Homo sapiens: one gene and its partners. The protein of the gene in region 1 interacts with the protein of each later gene in a pairwise test. Each region holds a gene or a part of one and is shown in the gene's direction. Other genes may lie near its edges.

Region 1 (4,176 bases):
CTTGCTAAGAGTCTTGTGTTTTCTTCCGAAGATAGTTTTTAGTTTCATACAAACTCTTCCCCCTTGTCAACACATGATGAAGCTTTTAAATACATGGGCCTAATCTGATCCTTATGATTTGCCTTTGTATCCCATTTATACCATAAGCATGTTTATAGCCCCAAATAAAGAAGTACTGGTGATTCTACATAATGAAAAATGTACTCATTTATTAAAGTTTCTTTGAAATATTTGTCCTGTTTATTTATGGATACTTAGAGTCTACCCCATGGTTGAAAAGCTGATTGTGGCTAACGCTATATCAACATTATGTGAAAAGAACTTAAAGAAATAAGTAATTTAAAGAGATAATAGAACAATAGACATATTATCAAGGTAAATACAGATCATTACTGTTCTGTGATATTATGTGTGGTATTTTCTTTCTTTTCTAGAACATACCAAATAATTAGAAGAACTCTAAAACAAGCATTTGCTGATTGCACAGTAATTCTCTGTGAACACAGGATAGAAGCAATGCTGGAATGCCAACAATTTTTGGTGAGTCTTTATAACTTTACTTAAGATCTCATTGCCCTTGTAATTCTTGATAACAATCTCACATGTGATAGTTCCTGCAAATTGCAACAATGTACAAGTTCTTTTCAAAAATATGTATCATACAGCCATCCAGCTTTACTCAAAATAGCTGCACAAGTTTTTCACTTTGATCTGAGCCATGTGGTGAGGTTGAAATATAGTAAATCTAAAATGGCAGCATATTACTAAGTTATGTTTATAAATAGGATATATATACTTTTTGAGCCCTTTATTTGGGGACCAAGTCATACAAAATACTCTACTGTTTAAGATTTTAAAAAAGGTCCCTGTGATTCTTTCAATAACTAAATGTCCCATGGATGTGGTCTGGGACAGGCCTAGTTGTCTTACAGTCTGATTTATGGTATTAATGACAAAGTTGAGAGGCACATTTCATTTTTCTAGCCATGATTTGGGTTCAGGTAGTACCTTTCTCAACCACCTTCTCACTGTTCTTAAAAAAACTGTCACATGGCCAGGCACAGTGGCTTACATCTGTAATCCCAATACTTTGGGAGGCTGAGGTGGGGGGATTACTTGAGGCCAGGAATTCAAGACCAGCCCAGGCAACATAGTGAGGCCCCATCTGTCTTTATTAAAACAAAACAAAACTGTCACAGCTTCTTTCAAGTGATGTTTACAAATTCCCTATGGTTTAGTCACAAGGAAGTTCTGAGGATGATGTATCACGTCATTTCTGTTCAGGCTTTTGAGCCTCCTGGAGGTAAATGGTTTCCTTACTGAAGGCTTGTTATTACCATGATTATCACTAAGCTTGAAGTAACAAATTAGGGGGGCAGACTCACAACCTCTTGCCCTGCCATGGACAAGTTCAAGAATCTAAGTAAAGTCCTCTATTGTCTGATCTTGGATTTGCTCAACCTGAACAAGCCAAGGAGGTGTATTAAACTCAGGCACATCCTGACCAATTTGGAATTCTTAAGCTTCAGATCACTGTGGAAGAGGCTCAACTCTTTATGGTGCTGTAGACTTACGCTCATTTTCTAGGTAATTTATAAGGGACCTAATATTTTGTTTTCAAAGCAACTTCAGTTCTACTAAACCTCCCTGAAGAATCTTCCAGCTGCTGAGTAGAAAATCACAACTAATTTCACAGATGGTAGAACCTCCTTAGAGCAAAAGGACACAGCAGTTAAATGTGACATACCTGATTGTTCAAAATGCAAGGCTCTGGACATTGCATTCTTTGACTTTTATTTTCCTTTGAGCCTGTGCCAGTTTCTGTCCCTGCTCTGGTCTGACCTGCCTTCTGTCCCAGATCTCACTAACAGCCATTTCCCTAGGTCATAGAAGAGAACAAAGTGCGGCAGTACGATTCCATCCAGAAACTGCTGAACGAGAGGAGCCTCTTCCGGCAAGCCATCAGCCCCTCCGACAGGGTGAAGCTCTTTCCCCACCGGAACTCAAGCAAGTGCAAGTCTAAGCCCCAGATTGCTGCTCTGAAAGAGGAGACAGAAGAAGAGGTGCAAGATACAAGGCTTTAGAGAGCAGCATAAATGTTGACATGGGACATTTGCTCATGGAATTGGAGCTCGTGGGACAGTCACCTCATGGAATTGGAGCTCGTGGAACAGTTACCTCTGCCTCAGAAAACAAGGATGAATTAAGTTTTTTTTTAAAAAAGAAACATTTGGTAAGGGGAATTGAGGACACTGATATGGGTCTTGATAAATGGCTTCCTGGCAATAGTCAAATTGTGTGAAAGGTACTTCAAATCCTTGAAGATTTACCACTTGTGTTTTGCAAGCCAGATTTTCCTGAAAACCCTTGCCATGTGCTAGTAATTGGAAAGGCAGCTCTAAATGTCAATCAGCCTAGTTGATCAGCTTATTGTCTAGTGAAACTCGTTAATTTGTAGTGTTGGAGAAGAACTGAAATCATACTTCTTAGGGTTATGATTAAGTAATGATAACTGGAAACTTCAGCGGTTTATATAAGCTTGTATTCCTTTTTCTCTCCTCTCCCCATGATGTTTAGAAACACAACTATATTGTTTGCTAAGCATTCCAACTATCTCATTTCCAAGCAAGTATTAGAATACCACAGGAACCACAAGACTGCACATCAAAATATGCCCCATTCAACATCTAGTGAGCAGTCAGGAAAGAGAACTTCCAGATCCTGGAAATCAGGGTTAGTATTGTCCAGGTCTACCAAAAATCTCAATATTTCAGATAATCACAATACATCCCTTACCTGGGAAAGGGCTGTTATAATCTTTCACAGGGGACAGGATGGTTCCCTTGATGAAGAAGTTGATATGCCTTTTCCCAACTCCAGAAAGTGACAAGCTCACAGACCTTTGAACTAGAGTTTAGCTGGAAAAGTATGTTAGTGCAAATTGTCACAGGACAGCCCTTCTTTCCACAGAAGCTCCAGGTAGAGGGTGTGTAAGTAGATAGGCCATGGGCACTGTGGGTAGACACACATGAAGTCCAAGCATTTAGATGTATAGGTTGATGGTGGTATGTTTTCAGGCTAGATGTATGTACTTCATGCTGTCTACACTAAGAGAGAATGAGAGACACACTGAAGAAGCACCAATCATGAATTAGTTTTATATGCTTCTGTTTTATAATTTTGTGAAGCAAAATTTTTTCTCTAGGAAATATTTATTTTAATAATGTTTCAAACATATATAACAATGCTGTATTTTAAAAGAATGATTATGAATTACATTTGTATAAAATAATTTTTATATTTGAAATATTGACTTTTTATGGCACTAGTATTTCTATGAAATATTATGTTAAAACTGGGACAGGGGAGAACCTAGGGTGATATTAACCAGGGGCCATGAATCACCTTTTGGTCTGGAGGGAAGCCTTGGGGCTGATGCAGTTGTTGCCCACAGCTGTATGATTCCCAGCCAGCACAGCCTCTTAGATGCAGTTCTGAAGAAGATGGTACCACCAGTCTGACTGTTTCCATCAAGGGTACACTGCCTTCTCAACTCCAAACTGACTCTTAAGAAGACTGCATTATATTTATTACTGTAAGAAAATATCACTTGTCAATAAAATCCATACATTTGTGTGAAACTTTGTTGTTTTCAGATGCGTTCACTTGTCATGTTTCATCAGTCTCTCACTCCAATTTCTAAGCTTCATGGAACATGAAACACGAATCTGTCTTTTAGATATAGCCTCTTTTGAGAATTCACATGAATTAGAACACACATTTTTAGTTATCTGTTTAAACTATGGTAAAATATACATAACATAAAATTTTCCATTTTAACCATTTTAAAGTTCAGTTCAGTGTCATTAGGTACATTCACATGGTTGTGCAAATATCACCATCATCCTTCCACAGAATTTTTTTCTTGCAAAACTGAAACTCTTTTTACCCGTTAGTCAATAATCCCGCATTTATCTTTCCTCTAATGCCTGGCAACCACCATTTTACTTTCTGTCTCTGATTTTGACTACTCGAAGGACCTAGGAGTGGGATCATACAGTATTTGTATTTTTGTGCTTATTTCATCTAGCATAATGTCTTCAAGCCTCATCCATGTTGCAACATGGGTCAATTTTCTTCCTTCTTAAGGTTGAATAATATTCATTATAGAGTAGT
Region 2 (7,035 bases), on another chromosome or scaffold:
GCATGTTAGAAATATTGAGCCTCTGTAAAACTCATTTTGTTAGCACTCGGGAAGACCAGTTCCAGCACCAAAGTAATTTTTATTCAAACTATTTGCAGTTGTTGTCATTTAATTTTTATTTACAGGTTTCATAATGTTACCAGGGCTGATGTTTATGGGACCCAAACTAAATTTTGACTATTTTCTATCTACTTGTTATGTGACTCTCCGTTTTTGTTTTTTTTTTCAATGGGGAAAGGACAGGAGGCATCCTCTGAATGTACTGCTTTTATAGGCTAAAATTTCCTACTACTTTTAACTTTCTTACTTATAAGCCAAAACCCTACTTTTCCAACGAGCCATGCCAGGAACCAGCCTTCTATCTACTCTTTTAAATTACACCCCTTCCTTGTGCCTCTGTGGTCTACTACTTTTGAAGAAATTGGTACCATTCCCTCCCTGCTATAATTTGCTCTACAGTTGCACTGTTTAGTAGTGTAGTCACTAGCCACATGTGGCTATTTAAATTATTTAAAATTAAAAATTCAGTTTGTTAGCTGAATGAATTACCACATTTCAAATGCTCAGTAGCCACATCTGACTAGTGGCCACCTTATTGAGTAGCACAGATACAGAACATTTCCATCATTGCAGAAAACTCTGTTGGGCAGTGTTACTCTTAGATAGTGAAACAGGGCTATAAAGTTATTTTTATGGCCTTTTTCTTGAAATGTTGTTTAGTTATTCTGGTCTTTTCAGGCAAGTCGGTATTTGAGATGAAGCTTTAGAAAAAAGTTACACCTGGATCCCTCATTTATTGAATATTATACTGCATTCCTTGATATGGCCAGGAGTAGAATTCTTTAGTTTCTAAGGGGAGGGAGAAATGGTAACACTACCTGATTTTTTTCTTTTTTTTTTTTTTAGAGGGGCAAGGATTCTCTTGATACTTTGGCCTGAGTCAGGGCAAGGCAGGGAGGGACTTAGCTTTTAGCTATGTGCCATCAATAGCTTGGAGTGTAAAAGGGATATGGGAGTAGGAGATGCAGAGGATTGTGGTTTAAAAAGGAAGATAACTCGAGGTCACACCTCACTTGTATTTCAGTAAGCTTTTACTGCACTTGATTAAACCAAGTTGCTGTGAGGAATGCAAATATGAGGTCAGGGTGCACGTATTCAGGCAGCTTAGAGTCCATTGAAGCTGGTACATAAGACTGAAAATTAACAAGGATTTGAATGAAGGTGCATTTACTGAACTTTATTTCTACTACACGCCAGCTATTGTGCGAGGGCCTGGGAAAACAGCTGTGAATAAAACAGGTTAAGTCCTTCCTCTTCTGGCATTCACAGCTGAGTGGCAGACAGGCCAGCTAATGGTTTAGGCTTTTAAATTGGTCGGTATTTCCTTAATTTGCAGGTATTTTTTCTGCTTTTTATGTATTTTGTAATTATGAAAAGTATGCATTCTTATTTTTTTAAATGTGGAAAATAATAGAAGAAAAGGAAATTTAGTGTTAGTGCAGTGGTTTATTTTGCACTGTTACACTGTTACTTAAGAAAAGGTAGAACCTTATTAAAGGCATTTTCTATAACAAGCTCCGCCCATGGCCCAGGGAGCAGCTCTTAAAGTAGTTTAACAATTTGGTTAGAATAAAAGCAGAACAGCTGATGCTTTTTTATGTTTCTGACCTATTTTCATAACAAAAGTACCCACTCTGCTGGGCGCAGTGACTCATGCCTGTAATCTCAGCACTTTGGGAGGTGGAGGTGGGCAGATCACGAGGTCAAGAGATCGAGACCATCCTGGCCAACCAACATGGTGCAACCCCATCTCTACTAAAATTAACTGGGCATAGTGGCACACGCCTGCAGTTCCAGCTACTCGGGAGGCTGAGGCAGGAGAATCGCTTGAATCTGGGAGGCAGAGGTTGCAGTGAGCTGAGATCACGCCACTGCACTCCAGCCTGGGTGACAGAGCGAGACTCCGCCTCAAAAAAATAAAAAATAAAAAGTACCCACCCTGTAGCTCAAACATCTGCCAGTCCTGAGGTTGTGATGGCTCTGCCTCCTTCCCTGGACCTTAGGATTGGGAGGAATAAGCCTCTGAGAGACAGACTGCCCTTTTTCCCAAGAATGGAATCTCTGCTCACTAGGGTAAGGGGTACACTAGGTGAGGTCCACATGCCAGTGCTCATGGCTGTTGAATGTCCTGGAAATATGGCAGCTAAATGGAATTATTAAATGCTCAGAAGTATTTAGCTATACCGTAATATCTTAATGACCTCCAGTAGGCTCTTGGAAACTACAGCTTTAAGCAAAACAACATACACCAGGTCCTCAAATAACGTCATTTCTTTCAATGTAGTTTTGTTATAACATTGAGAAAAAAAAATACTGGTTTTGGTATATGTCATTTTGTTTTAAGTCACAGGCTCCAAGAACTGATTGACAATGTTAAGTGTGGACTTACTGTACTGCATCTTCTCTGTGATATTTTAGCAGTGTGGCATGGAGGTGGGCCTATGGGTTGGCGTACAGAGGAAAGAAGGACCTCCGTGCAAGCAGTCTGAGTGGGAGGGTTTCTGTCCGTTACTAATCATCCTTATTCTTCAGTGTTGCTGCTGAAGGTGCTGTGACACATATGCTGTGCTTCTAACACGCTTCCCTTCAAGAGGGAGAACGTGCTCCAATGTTATAAATATAAAAAGATAGTAATAATATTGACAGTTAAGACATAATTATTGGTGAGTTGCCATTTAGAAATCTTTAGAATCATGAGATTATACAAGTGGATTTAATATTTTTTTCCAGAGAATTATTGAAACGTGGATGCCCAGATCTGTAATTAAACATGTATTGTTATGTTAGACTAAGAAAACAAGTACCTGTGGGATCAAAACCTGCTATTGGAATAGATGAAGGGACTGGGGAAGTCTAAGAAAAGGACTTTTATTTGTAATTTATTCTTTTTTGTCCTTTTTTTTAAGTTTTTGATTTATTCTTTTTTAGAAAACAATCTGAAGCAAAGGTGCCAAAATATTAGCATTTAATTCTGGGTCACACGTACTTACGGATTATTCTCTGTACTTTTATGTATTTTAAAACTTTTTTCCAACTAGAAAAACTGTCAAAAACCTTGTGTAAATATTAGCCTGAATCCAATCCCTTATTAATAATAATGAAAAATATTCTGAAGAAAAAGAATTGGGTTATACAGTGAAGTACTCAGTGTTGGTTCTTTCATTATGGCGACTGTAATCTGATTTTTAATTGGTGATTGTCTTTTGCCACCAGTGGTTCTCTTCTTTTTTCCCACCCTGGTCAACCTGAGTGATTCTGCATATGCCTATCTGTAGCATTTCCTCTCTGAGCTGCTGGGGAGGTAGAAAAAATGTGCAGTTAAGAAAAAATATCTCAGGAGAGTCTGAGGATTCTCAGCAAATGTTTACACAAGCAAATGTTTAACAAGTTGCAAGTTATACTTTCTCTAAACCACTTTTTTCATTTTTGGCATCTTTCTATCTAGGGCACCAGAACTAGCACCTCTGAAAAGTAAAATGATCTATGCAAGCTCCAAGGATGCAATTAAAAAGAAATTTCAAGGTATGTTCTAGATGACCTCTGAATATGTAGAGGTATGGTGAACACTCAGAATGGGGCAGCACCTTTTCTGAGAAGCACCTTATTTTTTTGCAGAGCTTCGGGCACAAGGGAGAAGTGTTACTTGTTTTGAGAAAAGCAGAAGACTGAATTTGACTTTCCATGTATCTTCTGCTTTGTGCTGGTTGCTCTGGGTCTGCCCAGCCTGTGTTTAATAACTATACCCTTGACATTGTCTATATATATCGTTTATTCAGGCTGGTTTTAAACTAGTTTGAGGTGCTACCAGTTTTCTCATGTAGGAGGTGGAGACTGATTGTTTAACATTGGACATAATAGTAAATTTGCTCTTGCCTTTGAATGTAGTTGTTATAATAAAGTTGCAAAAAGGAAATGTACCTAAATGAGAAAGGATGCTCTTTTCTCCAGCTTTACTGTTGAATGGCATGATTTTAGGTAATTAATTCATCTGTGTCCCAAGGAAAGTGCACCCACTCCTGAGCTGGTCAGTTGTATTTGACTTGCCACTGGGTGATTGGGATCCTGATGAGATGGCCTGGCCAGACTTCAGCCAGGAGAAAATGTTGGTATGATGGAAAGAACGTGCATGGGGCAAGTGCCCAAAGGCCTGCACTGAGGGCGAAGCCTGTCTAACTGCTGTGTGGCCTTGGCCAGAACTGCTTAACCTCCATGGGCCTTGATTCTCTCAGCTGTAGAAGGGGAGACTTGGTCTCATGTGTGAGTTTTAGTTTAAGAGTTTGCCCTGCCACCTTCCTGCCATGGCTGTTTCCAAACAGCTGAGTGAGCCAAGGTCACAAGGGCTTGGCCTGATGTTGATTTTGTTTTGTTTGTTTTACTGTCACTGGTTTTTATATTTTCATGGTAGAACAGGTTTGCCCTAGCCTGTTTTACTTAGTTCGGAAAAAAAAATTCTTGCTTCCTTTCCCGAGCCTTGCTGCTGCATAGTTTATTGCTGGGTCAGGTTCTTCGTGCATTTGGTTTGATGTTTGGCAACCCCCAGAAGTGTGTCACTGGGTTGCTAACTGACACTTTTAAATCCTTTAGCTTCAACACTTTCCCAGCCCAACCAAAAGGTTCACAGTGGATTCCTTATTATCTTTATTCTGCATTGCCTTTCAGTAAAGGGAATTGCTTTGCACACTTGATTTGGTGATACTAAAAGATAGTGGCCGGCTGGGTGTGGTGGCTCATGCCTGTAATCCCAGCACTTTGGGAGGCTAAGACAGGTGGATCACCTGAGGTCAGGAGTTCGAGACCAGCCTGACCAACATGGTGAAACCCTGTCTCTACTAAAAATACAAAAAAAAAATTAGCCGGGCGTGGTGGCACATGCCTGTAATCCCAGCTACTTGGGAGGCTGAAGCAGGAAGAATGCTTGAACCCAAGAGGCAGAGGTTGCAGTGAGCTGAGATCGCACCATTGCACTCCAGCCAGGGCAATAAGAGCAAAACTCTGTCTCAAAAAAAAAAAAAAGATAGTGACCATGCTGCCTTTTTTCTAATGAAAGCATCCACTGTCTTTCTCAGATCAGTCCTGAGTAGTTCAAAAGCTGACCTGCTGTGCTTTCAGCAGCTTGAGAAATAATGGTCTTTAAATGATGGGAATAACCATGCAGCTATTTAAAAGACAGTGGCCATTTACAGAGAAGCTACTGTATGTAATCCATAATTGAGCTCGTTTTTGCATTGTGGTAGTGTAATTGTTCTAAGAAAGCAATCAGTAACATATTTCACATAGTTTTCATTGTGATCGATTTCATAAATGTGTAGTGTAATACCATTGAAGAGCCAGCTGTTTACTTTTCAATACAGTTGACAAAATCAACTGTGCAATCAAAAATCATTTGTATTTTTATGTTTTAAAAACCAAGAAAATTTTCTTACTAGACCTGCCTTTTAGCTTTTTAGCAAAGTACAACATATCTTTAGAAAAGTGTATGTCACAAATTATTGTAGAATGTGTTGAATTTTTCAGAGTGAACATAATGGTTATTTCTTAATCTAATGACCAGCACCCCAGAAGCCTCCCTGGTGCTGTTCCCTTCAATTCATAGCACTTCTGCCTGCCCCTTCCTCCTCAAAGTAGCCAGCACCCTGGCTTCTAACAGCGTAAGTTAGCGTGGGCTGATTTTGTATGCTATACCTATATATATAATAGAATATATGCATTTTAAATCTGGATTCTTTCAGTGAATGCTGTTTGTGAGGCCCATCTATCTTGATGCATGTAGTTACAATTATTTTTTCTCGTTACTGTGTAGTATTCCGTGTTTGTATATACCCCAGTTTATCCAGATTAGAACTGGTCTTTTAAAAGTTTGGTTATCTTAGAGAAAGAGGTAAACTGCTGCCATAATTGTAAATAGAAGTGTTGTTTTTTCTCTCTAGGCATAAAACATGAATGTCAAGCAAATGGACCAGAAGATCTCAATCGGGCTTGTATTGCTGAAAAGTTAGGTGGATCCTTAATTGTAGCCTTTGAAGGATGCCCTGTGTAGATTATTCAGTGCCACAAATTGAAAGCTTCCATGTTTAATGTTATCCTCTTGCTATATAAATAAAGCAAATATATTTAGGCCAGGGTCTCACTGAGGGGGAGCTGTCTTGTCATCTTTTAGAGTAAACTATTCTATAAACATATGCAAACAGCCCTAAATAAATCTAAAGTCTAAAGTTTTATTGATGTGAAATTAAATTCTTATTGGCCAAATGCCTGTTTTGATGAGTTGATTTATAAAGATTTTTGTTAAGCTCAGGATTTTAAATTACACAGTTCACAAACAGTAAAGGCCATGTGAAGAGAATTATTACATCTTTATTAACCTCAGCATTTACTTTGTTTCTTTTGCTTAGGAAATTGCTCATAATCTGGTTATAATTTTGGTCCAAATTCTTTATTCTTCCTTGAGCTAAGCAGAATAATGGAATATAATATGTCTTCATAATATAACAACACTAATACACTAATAGTAAGATTAAGTTAGGCAGTCTTCTACCAAATGTGTAATGGAGATTGCCTCAAAATTGTGTCCACATAATCCACGCTCATCTTGCAAAGCGCTATTTCAGGCACATCATTGGAATACAGGAAGTAGCCCTGCACCTGCCAGTGAGCTCGCCATTCACTGATTGGAAGAGTGACCTGGCATCTTGGAAATCATTGTGTGTCTTCAGGAGAATGTGCAGTGTCTTGTAACAACTAATTATAATGCAAATTAGGGCTACATTGTAATCTGCTTTGTTAATGAAAATGATAAAACAGAATATTGACAAGCTAGGACACCTGTGGTATCTTTAATTGTATCTCCTTCAGAAGTTTGCTTCTTATGGTATAATAAAGTATGGAAGAATATTGAGTATATGTTTACTCTGGGCCTGGGAGAACTTAACTTTCTAGAGCAGTTTGTTGACTTGTGTGCAATGGGGAGAGGTACCA
Region 3 (7,035 bases), on another chromosome or scaffold:
CAGAAGAAAGCAGTTTTTGCGGGAACCAGCATGTGTTGGGTTTCATTTATTGGTTAGGCCAGCAGAAGACGGTAAACGTTGGTTTGGTGGTGTTGACAGATGGTGTGAAACTGGGAGGGGGTGCGCTCGACAACAAAGATGGAGAGGTGCATCCTGGGAAGTTGGCAGTGATAGGATGGGCATCTGATGCCTGGAAACATGCAGGTTTGGAGCTGGATCTTCTCGATGCAGACACTTCTGCTCTCGGGTAGTTATTTAAGAGGTTGTGTCAACCCTGTTATACCTGCAGGGTACCACTTAGTCAATGAGCACTGCAGTCCAGTGTGCCAGAAGGGCCTTCTGGTCCTTCTGATTGGAGAGATCATTTAGTGAAGCTTCCACACATTTGTTGATGTTCAGCTTGGGGATCCCTTACGCAGATAGCTGCCCCACATGGCTCCCTGGACCAAAGAAAGATCATTAGTATCTCAGAGATTGGCAGCAACTCCAATGCGAGAGAGTAAAACTCTGAAGACCCTGCGTCGTCAGTAGGCAGGGGAAAATGCGTCAGATTAAACAAGAATCTGTACTGCTGTTTAGTAGCCAGTGGCATAGAAGCCGGGGACTTCTAGTGTATTTCAGGCTCTGTAGAGGCAGGTGATGTAGCCCAGTCAAGTGGGTTTTCATGCCAGTTCTGCTGAGTGATGGTCACCAGGTAAGCACAGCTGATGGAGACTTGAAAACAGCTCTCGAATGCTAAGTGTGGAAATATTTGAGATAGAAATGGAGGAGCCGTGGTCAGAGTCGATACTGTTAATGAACGATCAGAAAAAAACCCACAAAACTGTCATAGTCTAGAATTAAGAGGAAGAACATTCTGGCTAAAGGCCAGGGCTCCTTCTGAATCTCAGATCCTTGGGGATCTGTGTTGGCTGCCCCAGGGCTGTGGCTGGGGCCGGCTCCCCAGGGCTCACCGAGAATGAACAGGAAGAACAGCCAGACCAAGTGAGAGTGATCGGCAGCTTGCTAACCCAGCCTGCTGGTGTCCCTCTCTGCTGCCCCAGGAGAGACCCCGCATCTTCCCCACACACTGCTGTGGGACTCAGGACACCTCGGGTTCAGATCCACATCTGCCCTCGGCAGCCCTGACCCTGGGCCTGTGGCTGAATATGTCTGAGTCCCTTTGTCCTAAAATGAGGTCGAGCCAGGTGTTCCTGGGGTCTTTCCCAGCCCCCAACTGAAACTGAATGCCGCGAGGCAGCCAGCCGGCCTTGGGAGGCCTCCACACAGCAGCAGTGCCAGAAATGACGACACAGGCCTCAAGCCCGCTGGACAGATCCCCCTGGCCCTGTGGTTAGCCTTGGCTTTGGCCCTTAACAGGGCAGACGTGGAGGATCTAGTTCAAAGCAGTAGCTTCGGGGCTGGGAGCAGCCCCTCCCCTGGAAACCTCTTGGGAAGCCTTCCTTCTGTGTGTTCTGAGGTGGTGGTAGCTCTGTAACAGCTCTGGGCACCTCCTGTTCTTTCTTTCCTTTGGCTTTCTTTTATTTATTTTTTATTTACAAAATAGAGATGAAGTCTCGCTGTGTTGCCCAGGCTGGTCTCGAACTCCTGGGCTCGAGCGATCCTCCTGCCTCAGCCTCCCAAAGTGCTGGGATTACAGGCGTGATCCACCGTGCCCAGCCTGTCTTTATTTTTATTTTATTTATTTGTTTTTCCAGCTTTACTGAGGTATGATTGACAAATAATGTCTGTTTGTAAAATTTCAGTCGAGTCATAGATACCAGGTAAGGCAGAGAGTGGGAGGGAGACTGAGGCCTTGGTCTGGTGTTGGGAGCACTGCAGCTCGAGTCTTGGAGTCAGGAGGGGGTTGTTGCACTTCCCTGTTCTGCTCCTTTTTCAGCTTTCTGGTTCCCTGTAGCTTCTGGAACTGATTATTTTTGTTTCTTTAATGCTGCCCTGTCTTGTAAAAGGAGAGCCATTAGCATCATTTGTTTTCAGGAGAGAAGCAGATTTGAAGGCTCAGGAACTTCCTGGGAAAGGTGACCTCTTTTGAGCCAAGAGCTTTACCCCCTAGTTTTTTGTTTTTTTTTTCTCCTGTCTACCTGGAGCTGAGAGGTTATCCCTTTCAATCCCTCTCAAGGTCCAGAATCACCAGCTAGGGTTGGGTCTGCCCCTGGAGCACAGACTCCTCCCTTGGGGACCCCAGAGCCCTTATCAGTATATCAGTAAAGGGCAAGAGAACAGAGATTGTTCAGAGCAGAGGAAAAGTGTATTTGTTCCCCAGCCCCACTCCATGAACATTCCCCTGTCTCAAAGCACATACTTAGGCCTAAGAACAGGATAGGCAGGCCAGGCACGGTGGCTTATTGCCTGTAATCCCAGTACTTTGGGAGGCTGAGGCGGGAGGATCACTTGAGGCCAGGAGTTCGAGACCAGCCAGGACAACATAGCGAGACCCTGTCTTTATATAAAAAAGAAAAAAAAGATACAAGTCTAAGAAGAGGCTGGGCAGTGTAAGTGTCCTCAGCCCCAGATATCATTTATTTGCTTATAAGCAAGAAAGAGGCGTGCCAGGGTATGAGAGTTTTAGAACAAGACTTAGCCTGTAAGTGGGAGAAGAGGGAGAACTTGGAGGGTACAGGGGCGCAGGGTGCAGAGCACTGATCAGAGAGGTGCGAGGGAAATGCAGCCACTCCATAAGGACCACGCCCTGTAGGACAGAGGCGCCCAGGTTAGCTGCATGCAGTGCAGAGGGTCCCAGGACCAGGGATCAGCTGTGAGGGACTTGGGTGGGGGGCCTGGCGGGTTAGGGACTGCCCGGCTTCCATGCTGCACACAGCTGGGAGCAATTATGCCTCTGGTTTGAGCTGTGCTGCTCCCTCTGGGTGGCCACACCACCCCCTCCCTCCGACCAATCAACCAAAGAAGTGCTTCATCTCGAGTTGGAAGTATGTCACCCCCGCCCCCCACCACCAACAAGGAAGGACCCTCTTTGTCCCTTTCCCAGTGACAAGTGTGAGTGAGCTTGGCTTTGGCTGGTTCTTCTCTAACAGGCTGACAACAGGGAGATAAACTCAGACCCAGCACCCAGGAGGTGGGAACCTCAGGGAAAGGACACCGGCTCTCCGTGTTTGAATCTGATGTTCTTTCTTTCTTCTCATGTGGCAGAGAAGAGACAGGACAATGGACGGGTGTATTACGTGAACCATAACACTCGCACGACCCAGTGGGAGGATCCCCGGACCCAGGGGTAAGGACTTGGGCTGAGAGGGGGGCCGGGCTGGGCTGGGTCTCTGTGCAGCTCCAGCACTGGGCAGGTGGCTTTGGACTGCATCGTCCCAGAGGGCTGATGTCAGGGACCTTTAGCCACACACAAGTGTCTTGAGACTCTCACCGTACAGATACACTGTTGGCCTGATGAGAGCTTAAAAGGGGTTTCTTAAATAGACCTTCCTGGTGGATGGAGGGCGGCCCGGCTGGCGGGTGTTGCTGGTCTCCATACTGATTGTGCTGGCTGCTGATAATTGGATTGCAAAAAGGTTGAGGGCATCCTGGTCTCCCAACACCCCCAAGTGAAGCTGTGCTGGGGCACAGGGTGCCTCAGGATTGCTGGTGGCTGCTCAGTCCAATGCCATCCATGCAGGGCTGGGTTTTTGGCCATGAGATAATAAGTGACCTCTCCGTGCTGCAGAACTGTTCTCACGACTTGGGTCATGCTTCTTGGGTGCATGTCCTCAAAGTCCCTCATGGGCTCTGCAGAGACAAAGCCACACTTTGAGGACCCAGCCTCCAACCACCAAGGTCCAGAAGGTGGGGCCAGCCCTTCACCCTTTTCTTCCCGTGTTTCCAGGATGATCCAGGAACCAGCTCTGCCCCCAGGATGGGAGATGAAATACACCAGCGAGGGGGTGCGATACTTTGTGGACCACAATACCCGCACCACCACCTTTAAGGATCCTCGCCCGGGGTTTGAGTCGGGGTAAGGACTTTGTGCAGGTAGCAGCAGTGTCAGGAGCCGAGGCCCAGGCTGTCCTTGTTCTGGCTCTGGGAGGCCCACTTTGGGTGGCCCCTGTGGTGCGTTCTACTGCCCTTACTGCCCTCTAGTGGCCAATGTTGATGTCATATTAAAGGGGATGGGAGGATAGCTTGAGCCCAGGAGTTTGAGACCAGCCTGGACAACATAGCGAGACCGTGTCTCCACAACAATAAAAAAGATTAACCAGGCTGAGAAAAATGGCAAGACCCCATCTCTACAAAAAAAAATTAAAAATTAGCTGGATGTGGTGGTGCATGCCTGTAGTCCCAGCTACATAGGAGGCTGAGGTGGGAGGATCCCTTGAGCTCAGGAGTTTGAGGCTGCAGTGAGCTATGATGGCACCACTGCACTCCAGCTCAGGTGACAGAGTGAGTCCCTGTTTCTAAAAAATAATAATACATTTAAAATTAGCTCGGTGTGGTAGCACACTCCTGTAGTCCTAGCTACTTGGAAAGCTAAAGCGGGAGGATCGCTTAAGACCAGGAATTCGAGGCCGCAGTGAGCCATGATCACACCACTGCACTGCAGCCTGGGTGACAGAGCAAGACCCCGTCTCTAGAAAACGAACAAACAAATAAATAAGATGGGATGGGGAGGAAGGGACTATCCTGTTTATTCCGAATGACACTAGAGTTATTTCTCTAAAAGCAAGAAGTCTGGCTTTATTTCTAGATTTTCTTTTTTATTCTTCAAGGATCTTAATGACAGTCACTTCCTCACCTTACATTACTAATCTTTAAATTAACATAGCACCAGCTTTCCTTAGGGCTGACAAAGACAAATTGTTCATTTTCTGAGAAATCGCATGAACCCCTGAACATCTTTGCTCTTCCTAGGACGAAGCAAGGTTCCCCTGGTGCTTATGACCGCAGTTTTCGGTGGAAGTATCACCAGTTCCGTTTCCTCTGCCATGTGAGTTCTGGTACTGGGGCTCCCGTGGCAGTTGGGGTTATTGAGTTATTTCAGTGTGAGTTCCCGGCACAGCAGCAGGTATCGGAATGTTTGTGTCTTAGGCGGGCGCAAGACACTTGTCTAACCCGGAGCTGGCTGTCTCTAGGAAGCTAGTTTTCATTCCTAGGGCACATGCTATTGCCTCCTGGCCCAGCAGGCTGGGGAATGCCTGTTCATACAGACAGGAGAACAGATGACCACTTGAGGCTCGATTTAAAGTTCTTTTCTTTTTTTTTTTTCAGTCAAATGCCCTACCTAGCCACGTGAAGATCAGCGTTTCCAGGCAGACGCTTTTCGAAGATTCCTTCCAACAGGTTAGATCATGGTGCCCGAAACCAGTGGCAGGCCGACGCCCTCCTCCCAGCACCCCATCTCCTATCGCGTGGCCTGTTAAACCCACACTGCAGACTTTCCAGGGCGTGAGTCTTGGTGACTGTGTCTGCTGGATATTGGGCCTTAGAGTCCCCTGTCCCTCCCGCCCCTGCCTGCTGTGGAAGGGAGAGTGGCAGGCTGGCCCGATGCTCTGTCTTCCCAGATCATGAACATGAAACCCTATGACCTGCGCCGCCGGCTCTACATCATCATGCGTGGCGAGGAGGGCCTGGACTATGGGGGCATCGCCAGGTGAGCTTGAGTGCCCCGGAAGGCTGCCCTGTACCCCGCTTCCCCAGGCTACAGCATCAATGGCCAGAAAGCTGCCTGCCCCCTGCTCACATTCCCTCCCAAAGCTCTCATGCATCTTCAGGAATGGGCACAGTGTGGCATTCAAAATACGTGAACCCGCCAGGCGCGGTGGCTCACGCCTATAATCCCAGCACTTTGGGAGGCTGAGGCAGGTGGATCACCTGAGGTCGGGGGTTCGAGACCAGCCTGACCAACATGGAGAAACCCCGTCTCTATTAAAAATACACAATTAGCTGGGCGTGGTGGTGCATGCCTGTAATCCCAGCTCCTGGGGAGGCTGAGGCGGGAGAATCGCTTGAACCTGGGAGGCAGGAGGTTGCAGTGAGCCGAGATCGTGCCATTGCACTCCATCCTGGGCAACAAGAGCGAAACTCCATCTCAAAAACAAAACAAACAAAAAAACAAAATACGTGAATCCATGTGGCCAGTCCATTGGGCCTGGAACAGGGGCCTGGGGTGCCCCACTGGGCTGGACATTAAGCCTTTAGTTACTGGGTCATGAGGCGACGGAGGACTCCTGGGAGGGGCGAGAGCTCAGTACAATGGCTCTGTTATCTACCAATGTGTCATGTTTCTGTACTTTAACAACCAGGCCAGCAGCATCTGGGCAGTTGAATATAGGGGCCATGTGGTCATCCATTAGAGTTGACCCTGGGATCCCCTCCTCTTAAGGCAGCCAGGGCAGGTGAAGTCAGGTGTCCCCGTGTGGATAAGCTGTGTCACGATCCACAGGGCCTTGAGCAGGGCTCAACTGCATGTCACATGCCTGGGGTCAGTAAAACTGTAACGGCTTATGTCACCCTAAAAAGAGTCCAAAGCATTGTCTTGCCTTCACCCTGGTCCACCCATAAAAGTTAACAGGCCCTCTGGGAAATGCTGCCTTGGACAGCAGGGCAGAAGGGCCCCGGCAGAGAGAGAGAGCGCTGTGGCCCGCAGCGACCTCTCCGCTCGAGACCTCTCCCGGTGTGGGCATGTCTTCCCGCTTGGTGTTGGGTTAACTTGCTTCTGGTCCTCTGTTCGGTGGTGGCGTTGCCTTCTGCGCTGGCCCCGTGGATGGATGTTCCTTTTTTCCGTGGTGACCTCCTCTCCAGGCTCTGCTTGGTGGGCTTCTGGTGTGGCCGCGCCCTGTGTGTGTCTCTCTCTGTGTCCTGCCAGTGGTTTTACCCTATGGTAGGTTACGTCATGCTGTTCTACCACAGGGTAGAACCACGGACAGGATACCGGGGCACCCTCTGCGTCGACGGACTCCTCGTCTGCCCAGCCACAAACAGCCCAGCAGCTGGGGACTGGCCCCCTTGGGACATCCCCTTGCTGGTTTAGCTCAAGCCCAAAAGGACTCTGAATTCATGCCTGAGGCTCGCACCCAGGGCACGGGTGTTGGTTCA
Region 4 (7,035 bases), on another chromosome or scaffold:
GCTTAAGGACAGGGGGGTCTGCTGACAACCGGGGACTCAAGGGGCCCACCTCCTCTCCCTGCTCTCACCACTCCCCGCCCCCTAGGCACAGCAGTGACTCAGACTGAAGGCCCTTCAGCTTGAAATGGGGACAATTTTCTAGTGACCACGAGGCAAGTAACCGTCCGGGAATGCATGGGTCAGTGTGTGTTGGGGTGTGGGGGGGTCTGTGGGCCCCAGCCTGCGGGGGGAAAGAAAGGGGGAAATGTGAGAGGCCTCTCCTCCCATCTCTCCCTAGCTCTCACTCTCTCGGAAGGAATGTCCGGGCTCAGGATTCCCCCCCACCCCTTATCCCACAGCTCAGCCTGGACCCGCTCTGGTCTCCTCCCTCCTTTCCCCAAGCACAGACTGAACCAGCCTGGGCCGGGGGAGGGGCAGAAGTTAGGAGTGGGGGTGCAGGCGCCAAGGAGCCAGGGACCTGAGGGAAGAGGGCGCGCTGAGGCTGCTTCTGGTCAGGGAAACCATTCTCCTACACCGACCCCAGCAGGCAGCTGCGCCCCCAGAGCTTTACCCTGTCTCTGCACTGACCTTGGGGAAGGAATTTAGGGAGGGGTAAAACAAGGCTAGAGCTGGTACCATTACTGCCCCGGGAGAGTCCCCTCTGCCGCCACCAGAGACAGCCACCAAAGCGCCCCACGGTAGGACGATTCGAGATGGAGCTGCAAGGGGATTTAAGGCCCGGCTCGCCCTTTGAGTCGGGGTCGTCGGGGAGACCCTCGGTCTCCACTTCTCCCTGCGGGGGTGGGGGCGGGGCCGCGCTACTGATGAGGGGTTTAGGACACCGTGAGACGGCCAGGCCATTTCTGCCTCGGCCCCAGACGCAGAAGGGGTCCCATGCAGGCCCGAGCCAGTGCACCCTGCGCTCCCTCAGCCGCGGGCCGTCGGCGCAGGCCGGGACCCTCCTCCGCGCGAGCCCTGCACTCCTCCGGTGCCCTCCACGCCGCCACCGGCTGCTGCTCGCAGCCTCCCGCCATTGGCCAGGAGCTCTGCGGCTCCCACCAGTGAGCAGGCCGGATTCCGGTGAGGGGCGGCCCCGGGTGTTCCCGGGTTAACCCTTTGTGGGCCGCTCCAGGACGGCGGCACCCGGATCCTTCTCTAAAATTTAAAGGGCGGGCGGCTGAGGCCAGGCTCCAAGAGAGGGTGCAGCCGAGAAGAGGGGTACGCAGGTCTGCAAGCAGGAGAGCTCGGGAACCTCTCCTCCAAGGGAGGGAAGCCGGCGCCGGCTGCGCGTGACAGCCGAGAAGGAGCTTATATTGGCACGACTATAGGAAAAAGTCTTTAACGAGGAGGGAAACAAATCATAATATGTCCTTCTCCGGCTTCCCACCCCCGTTGCCTGGAAAGGCACCCCTGTAGGACGCTCACCCCCTGCAGAACCCTGTCGCCCTCAGAGCGTTGACACATGGCTCCCCTGAAGTTCGTGAACTCCTGGCCGCCGACCCCTTGCTCTTGCTCCCCAATTTCCATCGGACAATCTAAACCTGAACTTTTGTGTGTGAAGTGGAGGGAGGGCTGGGTGTGGTTGGGGGTAGAGGGGACAAGGGGGCGTGCTGGAGCGGAGGAGGTCTGAGGTCTCCAAAATGGGCTTTCCAGGGATGGGGCCAAGTGGATGCGGTGGAAGGAGTGAGAGGACCAGAAGGTCCCGCACACGCCAGGGCAGCCCTGGACTTCACCAGCTCACTTTGCAGCCCCGGACATCACCAGCTCGCTCACTGTGCGTCCTGGGTAGCTGTGTTTCCCTCTCTGGACTGGAGTTTTCTCTACTAAGAAATAGGAGGGGGGGAACGAGGGGCAGGGGACCGTCGGGGAGCTTTCTCCCGTCCCTTCTGCCTCTAACTTGGTGATAGAAACCAACCCTACCTTAGCCGCCATGAGAGGCCAGGCATCAGACGGAACTAGGGCCGCAGAGCGCTCTAGGGGAGTCCCTGATGGCAGTGCTCCCAGGAGGGCGAGGTGGGCCTAGGGATGATGGGACGCGCCCACCGTCCACCCAGCACCTGAAGAAGCCCGGCGCAAAGAGGACCTGGGCGTCGGAGTGTCCTCCACCCCCACCCCGCCTGCCCCTTGGCCGCCCTCCCCTTCCACTTGGCTCCCGTTGCTCTGGAAGCTCCATCCTGCTGGGTTTTGGCTGCTGTTTCTAGCAGGTGGGGTGGGGACTGCTCACACAATGGGGCCAGCTGAGCTCTCTAAGCAGTTTCCTGTGGGCACCCTAAAAGGGTCTCTGGGAAGAACCTGGGTCATCTGCCTGAGCCAAGGCCTTCAGGGAGTCCAGCCCAGATCCGAGGAAGCATCTTTCCTCTCCCAGGCCCCAGGAAGGGGCTTGGCAAACCCTTATCGCCTGAGAAGCAGCTGCTGGAGAAATACCTTAGCGGCTGACTCACCGGCTCCCTCTGCTCACAGCCCCCTCCCACTGGGCCCAACACCAGGCCTTTGAGAGACCCTAAGGGAGAGAACTGGCGGAAGCGCCCCCAGCCGGCAGGCCCGGGCTCTGCGGAGGGTGTAGCCAGCGCGGCCCTGGCTGTGGCTGGCTGGGTGGTTGGGGGGTGGTTATACCCTGTAAATGGCCTCTGTCTGGGATCACAGTGATTCTTAGAAACTCATTCAGCTCTGACCTCCTGGTACTGCCTCACTCCAGGTATTGATGGACAATTGGTATGCTGATGGCATTGCCATCTGGGTTCTAAGGCCCTGTCCCTCCACCAGTATCATGAGCCAGGTGCTGGAAGGCAGCAGGTGAACAGGGTGCAAACCCTGCTTCAGGGCAATTACCGGACCGGGGAGGGTCTGCTGCAGTTGTAAAAGACTGGACAGTGAGGGATGGTGGGCACCTCCCTGCTGCATTAGCGCCCTTGGCCTCAGTTTCTCTCTCTGTCAAATGCCAATATGCATTTGTCTTGTCTCATTGGATAATTGTGAAGATTAAATGAAATAATGCATAGGAGAGCACTTTGGGTTAAAAGCACAACAGAAATGTAGGATGATGATTGATTGCTGGCAAACTGGGAAGTGGGAGAGTACCCCTGCCAATGGGGCTTCTGAGCTCATTTTGTCCTGGATTATCTCATCAGGCTTTGTTTGGAGGGAAAGGCCAAACATTCCCCCCACAACTCCCACCATTGGTTCCAAGCTCAGCTCGGGGACAGAGTTTAGGGGCTGCAGTTTTCATGATGACGATAACTAACAATGATCGAGCATTCACTCTGTAGCAGGCACTGTTCTGTGTTTTATATGTACAGTATTTACTCATTTTACCCTCATACTCCTATGAGGTGAGTACTAATCTAACAAAATTTTAGATCCTCATGGCAACACTATGAGGTAGGAACTATTATTTTCCCCTTACGGATAAGGAAACTGAGGCACGGGGAAGTTAAGCAACTTAGCAAGTGGTGGAGCTAGGAGTCAAAAGCACGTCTATGTGACTCCAGAGCTCGTGTTCATCTCCTACTCCATGCAGACAGACTCATGTGGCCCTGAACCTTATGCTCATACAGAAGGCTTCTCTGCTCATTACCTTCCAGGTTGGGACAGGCTCCCAATATTCCAGGCCAGAAAGGGCCAACAACTCCAGACCTTGAAGGAATCCCCTGGCACAAGCCTTTAACCACTCAGCAGGCAGGGCTTCAGGACCTAAGGCAGCCCCCCATCCCCCATCTCTTCTGACCCACCAGCAAATTCATTCGTTCAATAAATAAGGAACAAACAATAGAAACATTTATTGGACAGGCACGGTGGCCTACACCTGTAATCCCAGCACTTTGGAAGGCCGAGGCGGGCAGATCACTTGAGGCCAGGAGTTTGAGACCAGCCTAGCCAACATGGTGAAACCCCATCTTTACTGAAAATACAAAAAATTAGCTGGGCGTGGTGGTGCGCACCTGTAGTCCCGGCTGCTTGGGAGGCTGAGGCATGCAAATCACTTGAACCCGGGAGATGGAGGTTGCAGTGAGCCAAAATCATGCCACTGCACTCCAGCCTGGGTGACAGAGTGAGACTCTCACAAGCAAGACAGAAAGAGAGAGAAAGAAACATTTCTTTACACATTTATAATTCTTTAGAGAGAGAAAAATAATGTACAAGAACCTACCATATGTCAGCCACTGGAGTGCTTTACTAACAATAAGAGGCAACGTTTATTGAGTAATTACTATGTGCCAGGGACTGTTATAAGGCCTGTACGTGGATTAACTTGTTTAATCCTCATGACAATCTTGGAAGGTAGGAACTATTAATATTACCAGCTGTACAGAGGACGAAATGAAACAGAGAGGTTAATTGACCTTCCCAAGATCATGGAGACCAAGATTTTTCAGACTTTTTTGTTTCTAAGAAATATATTTTACATCATTACCAAGTACACACATGTGCGTTCACACACACAACTGTGATTTTTTTTAATTGCCAGGTATTTAACTCCACTGTGTGCTGTGCACTCTGATATTTTCTACTTTTTTTTTTCTGTTTTATTTTTACTTAAAATTCTGGTCGTGACCCACTAAATTGATTTCACAACCCATTAATGAGTCACCACCCACAGTTTAAACAGCACTGAATCATAGCTAGAAGGATGGAGGCCACCATTCGAACCTAAATAGTAGGGCTCCGGAGCCTAACCTCTCCATATAAAGGATGGCTTGGGAAAGGAGAGAGACCCCGAAGTCTTGAGGACAGATGGACACTGTGCTGCTGAGGAGACTGGAGGCCTCAAGAATCCCACTGCCCTGCATCACTCCCTTCCCACATTCCAGCAAAAGATCATACAAAATTCACTAATATTGCCTTTGGAAAACAAACTTGTTGGCGTAGACACACGGTTGTTCTTTTACTTTGTCTTCACATCAGCCTATGAAGGAAGTAAGAAGGACTGAGAAACTGACTCACGCAGTTTAAGTGATTTGACAAAGGTCACAGAGCCCAGTGTCCTGTTGCCTGGTCCAGGGAGTTTTTGATCCCATCCTGAGCTCACCCTTGCAGATAACAATGGTGAGCGTGGAGCTGGTGGTAGAGAGAATGGGATGACAGTGGTAACGGTCATGATGGAAATGATGAGAGTTGGTGTTGCAATGTTGGTACTGGGGAGATTGGTGATGTTGCTGATATTAATGGGAATGGGCACAGTAATGGGAGGTTGCAGGGACAGTGGTGGCCATGGTGGGGTGCTGCACCACCACAGTAGCACCTGCACCCCCTTCCCAAGCAAAGCTGAATTCCCTCTTCCCCTCACCTCTTCCTTCCCTAGCACTTTCCTGAGCACCTGGACCACTTTACGGAGAACATGGAGGACTTCTCCAATGACCTGTTCAGCAGCTTCTTTGATGACCCTGTGCTGGATGAGAAGAGCCCTCTATTGGACATGGAACTGGACTCCCCTACGCCAGGCATCCAGGCGGAGCACAGCTACTCCCTGAGCGGCGACTCAGCGCCCCAGAGCCCCCTTGTGCCCATCAAGATGGAGGACACCACCCAAGGTAAGAGGTGGAAGAACCTGGGGACAGCACAGGCCCAGGAGGCCCAGGAGGGAGGAAGCTCTGGGGTGACAAGAGAGTGTGCCTGCAGCCTGAGACTCCCAGAGGCTCCAAGAGGAGCCACCACAAACCCCTTAGGAGGTGCTCCTCCCTGCCTTTCTGTTCTCCCTCAGCTCAAAGCCAGAGGAGCACTTCTCAAAAGGGTTTTTTGCTGACTTAAGTCAGTGGTTTACAAAGTGTGGTTCCCAGACCAGCAGCATCACCTGGGAATCTGTTAGACATGCAGATTCTCGGGTTCCACCCCCAACCTGCTGAATCACAACCCTGTGGGTAGGGCCCAGCCTTCCAGGTGATTCTGATGCACACTCAGATTTGCAAACCGCTGACTTAGAGGAGACAGTGGGGGTAATTCAATAATAACTGTGGGGCCGGGTGTGGTGGCTCACGCTTGTAATCCCTGCACATTGGGAGGCCGAGGCAGGTGGATCACCCGAGGTCAGGAGTTCGAGACCAGCCTGGCCAACATATGGTGAAACCCCGTCTCTACTAAAAAAAAAATACAGGGCCGGGCGCGGTGGCTCACGCCTGTAATCCCAGCACTCTGGGAGGCCGAGGCAGGCGGATCACTAGGTCAGGAGATCGAGACCATCCTGGCTAACACAGTGAAACCCCGTCTCTACTAAAAATATTAAAAATTACCCGGGGGTGGTGGCGGGCGCCTGTAGTCCCAGCTACTTGGGAAGCTGAGGCAGGAGAATGGCGTGAACCCGGGAGGCGGAGCTTGCAGTGAGCCAAGATTGCGCCACTGCACTCCAGCCTGGGCGACAGAGCGAGACTCCATCTCAAAAAAAAAAAAAAAAAAAAAACCAACTAGCTGGGCGCGGTGGTGGGTGCCTGTAATCCCAGCTACTCGGGAGGCTAAGGCAGGAGAATCGCTTGAACCCAGCAGGCGGAGGTTGCCGTGAGCCATTGCACTCCAGCCTGGGTGACAAGAGCGAAACTCCGTCTCAAAAAAAAAAAAAATACAAAAATTAGCCAGGCGTGGTGGTGCGCTCCTGTAGTCCCAGCTACTTAGGAGACTGAGGCACAAGAACTGCTTGAACCCGGGTGGAGAAGGTGTAGTGAGCTGAGACCGCACCACTGCATTCCAACCTGGGCAACAGAGTGGGACTCCATCTCAAAAATAATAATAACTGGCTGGGTGCAGTTGCTCATGCCTGTAATCCCAGCACTCTGGGAGGCTGATGCGGGTGGATCACCTGAGGTGAGGAGACGAAGACCAGCCTGGCGAACGTGATAAAACCCCGTCTCTACAAAAATACAACAATTAGCCCAGCATGATGCCCTCCATCACATGGTGCCTCCATTACATGCTGCCTGTCATCCCAGGTACTTGGAAGGCTGAGGCAGGAGAATCACTTGAACCTGGGAGGCGGAGGCTGCAGTGAGCCAAGATTGCGCCATTGCAATCCAGCCTGGGCAACAGAGTGAGACTCCGTCCCAAAAAAAAAAAATAGACGGGGTGCTGTGG

The links.
Region 2: the proteins of CFTR (region 1) and DSTN interact in binary tests that used the Homo sapiens proteins (3 or more experiments, as listed by UniProt).
Region 3: the proteins of CFTR (region 1) and WWP2 interact in binary tests that used the Homo sapiens proteins (3 or more experiments, as listed by UniProt).
Region 4: the proteins of CFTR (region 1) and CREB3L1 interact in binary tests that used the Homo sapiens proteins (3 or more experiments, as listed by UniProt).

The regions. Positions count from the first base shown.
Region 1 is NC_000007.14:117,665,025-117,669,200, forward strand, and holds the end of CFTR (cystic fibrosis transmembrane conductance regulator), read left to right. Parts: intron 1-434; coding exon 435-540; intron 541-1,883; coding exon 1,884-2,084; 3' UTR 2,085-3,641; downstream 3,642-4,176. UniProt on the Homo sapiens protein: Epithelial ion channel that plays an important role in the regulation of epithelial ion and water transport and fluid homeostasis. Mediates the transport of chloride ions across the cell membrane.
Region 2 is NC_000020.11:17,601,050-17,608,084, forward strand, and holds part of DSTN (destrin), read left to right. Parts: intron 1-3,505; coding exon 3,506-3,582; intron 3,583-5,987; coding exon 5,988-6,097; 3' UTR 6,098-7,035. UniProt on the Homo sapiens protein: Actin-depolymerizing protein. Severs actin filaments (F-actin) and binds to actin monomers (G-actin). Acts in a pH-independent manner.
Region 3 is NC_000016.10:69,926,301-69,933,335, forward strand, and holds part of WWP2 (NEDD4-like E3 ubiquitin-protein ligase WWP2), read left to right. Parts: intron 1-3,147; coding exon 3,148-3,229; intron 3,230-3,829; coding exon 3,830-3,958; intron 3,959-4,851; coding exon 4,852-4,927; intron 4,928-5,208; coding exon 5,209-5,280; intron 5,281-5,501; coding exon 5,502-5,590; intron 5,591-6,780; exon of another isoform or gene 6,781-6,880; intron 6,881-7,035. UniProt on the Homo sapiens protein: E3 ubiquitin-protein ligase which accepts ubiquitin from an E2 ubiquitin-conjugating enzyme in the form of a thioester and then directly transfers the ubiquitin to targeted substrates.
Region 4 is NC_000011.10:46,294,657-46,301,691, forward strand, and holds part of CREB3L1 (cyclic AMP-responsive element-binding protein 3-like protein 1), read left to right. Parts: intron 1-502; exon of another isoform or gene 503-677; intron 678-5,278; coding exon 5,279-5,507; intron 5,508-7,035.